Regions from separate parts of the Homo sapiens genome. Here region 2 is linked to region 1. The links come from fine-mapping of genetic effects on gene expression. Tissue or cell type: whole blood. Region 1 holds a variant in brackets; the other region holds the start of a gene. All regions are shown on one strand. Distances are between the middles of the regions.

The links. PIP is the estimated chance that this variant, and not a neighbour inherited with it, causes the effect.
Region 2: it holds the start of TMEM245, and the variant in region 1 is fine-mapped to the expression of TMEM245 in whole blood (INTERVAL, PIP above 0.99).

What each region holds. Positions count from the first base shown.
Region 1 is chr9:109,141,397-109,143,896 of GRCh38, forward strand. FRRS1L (ferric chelate reductase 1 like) reads right to left here. Exons shown (of 5, transcript NM_014334.4): 4 at 1-193. Among named protein-coding and RNA genes, the nearest start is that of TMEM245, 23 kb to the left of the region's middle. The variant C/T (reference allele first, on the strand shown) is at 1,082.
Region 2 is chr9:109,118,579-109,121,251 of GRCh38, forward strand. It overlaps TMEM245 (transmembrane protein 245), which reads right to left and starts at 1,369. Exons shown (of 18, transcript NM_032012.4): 1 at 757-1,369. The coding sequence starts at 1,335. RefSeq lists silencers at 699-808, 1,159-1,328, 1,469-1,518 and an enhancer at 999-1,048.

The DNA of each region.
Region 1 (2,500 bases):
CAATTGTTTCATCTCTGGGAACATTCACAGGGCGTTTAAATCTGCAGGTGACGCGATTGTTCTCAAAAACTCCTTCTTCATCTCTGGCAGGGTTTCTCTGAATCTCCTTTGCCCACTGGCCTACATTATAGAAGTGCTGTATGCGGACCCTGCCATTGTCATCATGGACGCAGGCCATGACATCATCACCACCCTAACATGAGAAATGATTGAGAAAAAAAAAAGTCAAAGGTTCATCTTTTGCACACTGGTCACTAGAAATATACATTCCATCATCTCTGCAATTTGAAATCCCACCAAAAAAATTCTTTTAAGTGCCATTAAAAAGTCTCAACCAGGAGACCAAAGTTACCATCACAATAAGTGACATTCAGTGCCTCCTGACTGATGTTTGGAGAAGACATTACCACCTATGTGGTAATCCTGCCCAAAACACAAACCAACCTAATCAAGAAAAAACAATCAGACAAACTCAAACTGAAGGTCATTCTACAAAAAAAATTAAAAAAATACCTAGCCTATAATCTTCAAGGAGTCAGTGTCATAAAAGACCAAAAAAAGAAAAAAAAAAAAAAGGCTAAGAAACTATTTCAAAATATACATGACAACAAAATGCAGTTCTAGGTGTTCCTACATAGAAATTTGGGCTATAAACCCAAAATTTCCCTAAGGACAGTATTGGGACAAGTAGCAACATATGAAAACAAACAATATATTTAATAATACCATCATATCAATGTTAAACTTCCTGAATTTAATAAACTATATAATAAAAGAGAACATTCTTGATTTTAGGAGATAACCTACTTAAGTATTTAGGGTTAAAGGATTATGATATTTGCTATTTAAATGCCAAAATTCCAGAAAATAACAATCAAAAAAATAATAATCAGTAGTAGTAGCAGTAGCAGTAGCAGTAGCAGCAAGCAGTACAGAGAATAAAGCATGTGTGGCTAATGTCATTATTTATGAAAAAGTTCTGGAACTAGGGAGTAGTGATGGTTGCAGAACACTGAATGTGGTTGATACCACTGCATTGACACTTTAAAATCATAAATTTTGGTGCTACTGCACTCCAGCC[C/T]GGATGACAGAGTGAGACCCTTTCTCAAAAAAATAAAATAAAATGGTCAATTCTGGCCAGGTGTGGTGACTAGTGCCTGTCATCCCAACAATGTGGGAAGTCAAGACAGGAGGATCATTTGAGCCCAGAAGTTCAAGACCAGTCTAGGCAATACAGTGAGACACTATCTCTACAAAAAATTAAAAAATTAGCTGGGCATGGGGCTCATGCCTGTAGTCCTAGCTACTCAGGAGGCTGAGGTAGGAGGATCGCTGGGGAGGTTGAGGCTGCAGTGAGTCTTGTTTGTGCCACTGCACTGCAGCTTGGGCAATAGGGTGAGACCCTGTCTCAAAAAATAAAAATAAAAAAAAAAATACACAACAACAAAAAATAAAATGGTTAATTTTGTTATGTGCGTTTTACCACAATAAAAAAGTTATTATTTTGTTAATCTAAGTAGCTGTAGTCCCAGCTACTTGGGAGCCTGAGGTGGGAGGGTCACTTAAACCTTTACTATCCTTCCTGCTTGCCTACAGTTTACATTTTTTTCAAAACAAGTTTAAAAAAGTTAAAAGAGTTTGGTCGGGTGTGATGGCTCACGCCTATAATCCCAGCACTGTGGAAAGCTGAGGCAGACCACTTGAGGTCAGGAGTTCAAGACCAGCCTGGCCAACATGGTGAAACCTCGTCTCTACTTAAAATACAAAAATTAGCTAGGTGTGGTGGCAGGTGCCTGTAATCCCAGCTACTTGGGAGGCTGAGGCAGGAGAGTCGCTTGAACCTGAGAGGTGGAGGCTGCAGTGAGCCGAAATAGTGCCACTGAACTCCAAGCCTGGGCAATACAGTAAGACTCCATCACAAAAAAATAAAAAGTTACAAAAAAAAGTGTTAATCAGTTGTAATGCATGTACCATCCTGTGCAGGATGTTGATAATGGGGGAGGCTCCCCAGGGGGTATATGGGAAATCTGTACCTTCGGCTCCATTTCACTGTGAACCTAAAACTGCTGTAAAACGTAAAGTCTAATTAAAACACACACACACGCACACAATAATGCACCTTTTTTTTTTTTTTTTCCCCGACAGAGTCTCACTGTTGCTCAGGCTGGAGTGCAGTGGCGCGATCTCGGCTCACTGCAACCTCCGCCTCTCGGGTTCAAGCAATTCTCCTGCCTCAGCCTCCCGAGTGGCTGGGACTACAGGCACCCGCCACCATGCCCAGCTAATTTTTGTATTTTTAGTAGAGACAGGGCTTCACTATGTTGGCCAGGCTGGTCTCAAACTCCTGACCTCAGGGGATCCGCCTGCCTCGGCCTCCCAAAGTTCTGGGATTGTGAGCCACTGCGCCCGGCTAATAATGTACCATTTTTAAAAAGTTAAACGCTTTTAAAAAGGGGTTCCATTTTGTTTTTCCTATACATTAGGTTCTCAAAAAAAATTA
Region 2 (2,673 bases), 23 kb before region 1:
GGTTAATCCAAGCATCACAAATCTACGTCTCTCCCCTTCACGCGGTCAGCTGCTTTACTCCAGGCGGGAGGAGGTGTGCTGTGGTACACCAGTCCCTGCACAACAAAAGCAGTTACCTAAAAGTAAAGCGTGGAGAGGAAGAAGCACAGGCAGCTCAGCACCCAGTGCCTTGCACAAATTATACAGGAATCACCTGAACTGAGAGGCAGCACCAGCCAGTGAAGCAAGCTTTGTTTTAGGACTTGTAAGAAATCTAAGACACCCAAACCCCTCTTTGTCCCTAAGTAGCCCTAGCCTGGTAAGAGGTCACCTTTCCTATCTGCAGGATGGCAAGTTGGCCTAGAATCTCTAAGGTCCCTTCCAGCTCTGACATTCAGATGCGCAGAACTGAGGGTGGCCGAAGCACCCCCGCCCTCTCCAACCAGAAGTAAAACCAAGCCCCACTGCCATGCTCTGAGGCCTCTCTCTGCAAAGCGAAATAACGATTCTCAATCCAGGGCACTGTCCCCCTAAGAGGGCCTATTAGGATTGAAACAAGGCGAAAAGCAGGGAGGCTGTTTCAAATCACGCCCGCCCCCTTTTTGGAAGAATGTCCGCCAAATTCCTGAGGTGTGAGAAGGAAAGCGGAGACGGACGGTCACTGCAGCACAGGTGTGGCCCCTCGTCGCCCCTGCACCGGGAGGAACAGCTGCAGGATTGCACCCCAGAGCGCCGGGACCACGGGCGGGGGACGGGGGCGGACTGCCGCTCACTCACCCACAGGCTGCTGAAGTAGTCCAGCCCGCGGCAGATGAGCGTGGCAGCGTGCACCAGCAGCACCTGCACGCCCAAGTAGCTGCCGAGGCAGTAGAGGCCGTACAGGAGCGGGCCGCCGGCGCCGAGCAGCAGGAGCAGGCGGCGGCGGCGCAGCGCCTGCTCGCCCAGGGCCTCGACGCCGTAGTCGACGAAGCAGAGCGGCAGGAGCAGCGCGGCCAGGACGATGGGCGTGTGCGCGCGGTGCAGGCGCTGCAGCCAGTGGCGGCCCAGGCGCGTCAGCGAGCTCTTGAAGGGGTGCAGAAAAGTGCCGCATAGCACGGCCCAGAGCAGCGGCCGCAGGAAGGCCTCCAGGATGAAGTAGACCAGCACCGCGGCGCCGCAGCACAGGCACACGAACAGCACGGCCCCGGTGTTGTAGAAGGCCTGCTTAATGGGCTTGTCGAAGCGCAGCGCCAGCGCCGCGGTCCGCGGGGTCTCCCCGCCACCGCCACTCGGCCCGACCGCGCGCGGGACCCGCGGCGCCGGCCCGGGAGAGCTCCGCAGGCTTGGCGCGTCCTTAGGGCCGCCGCCGTCGGCCATCGTTCCTCCGCCACAGCCGCCCCCGAGGGGCGGTAATGGGAGTCGGGCTAGAAACGCGGGCGGGAGGCAGGGCGGGAGGCGCGCGAGATTGTGGGAGTTGTAGTTCCCCGCTGGTTTACAGACCCACCAAGCGCTTGCAGGAAACTACAACTCCCGAAGGGGAAATGGGGAAAACGCCTCCGCCTCCTTGGTGTCCGCAAGGTCCTGCTAACAAGTTTGCAGGGTCTATATCTTCCTGGAGGGGGGGGGGGGGGGAAGCTCCTTTCACTCATTCGTTAATGTCAATTTCTCGCGAGGCGAGATCCCAAAAGGCGCCACATTCAGATATTAAAACCCAAGCTGCATACTAGAATACCGTGGGGGAGTACTTTTAAAGAACCAATGCCCCGATTCTGTTTTACTGATTTATTTAACAGATATTTTTAAAGTGTTTTCTTTGGTGTATCTGACAGGATTTTAAATAGAGATTACCATATAACAGGCCCTATTCTAAGTGGCTCACTCCTATTAACTCATTTAATCCTTAGAACAACCCTACAAAGAAGGTGTTATTATCCTCATTTTACCAACAGAAAAACTGAGACAGAGCCGTTAAGTACGCAGCCAGAGTCACACAGCTACCAAGTGGCACAGGCAAGATTCAAACTCAGGGATTCTGGCTCCAAAGGCTATACTTTTATCTACCATAGTATTTGGCCTGAGGAAAGAACTCTTGGCATTTTTCAAACGTTCCTCATAAGCCTGTAATTTGCAGCCGCTGTTGACAACTGTTTGTGCAGGTTTCGCTGTGGACGCAATCTAAACTCTTAAAAGAGTCGTAGATCAAAGTCTCAAACTGCCACTGTTTCTTTTTGAGACTTGATGTAATGTCAGTTAAGCCCCCAATCTCAAGTTTTCCTCTGTCACATGGCGATGATAATAATAATAGCTTTTGCTTTAGGGTTATTGTGTGGGGGAAGGGAAACTCTGGGGCGGTACAAGGTGCTTCTGTTCCCCTATTGGAAAAGTGCTGGGATCCAAGCCTGCTACCCATAAAATATCCCAATCAACATTTTGATTTAAAAAAAAAAAGAAAGCCTTGACTGAGTACTCAACATGTGATTGCTTCAAACCTTGCAAGTTGTCCCTTTCCTGTTTCAATAGTATTCCTATTAATTTCTACATAATTTTTGTTTCCCTTCTAAAGCAGACAAGACAGGTAACATAATCCACAGTTTGCAGATAAAGAAACTATTGCTTGATAGATTTGGAGACAAAGGGATTTAGTAAAGGAAGTAAAGGAAAAAGTAATTCCCTATCCATCTCGATTGTAAGTTTTAGGTCTCAGTATTTCAGATG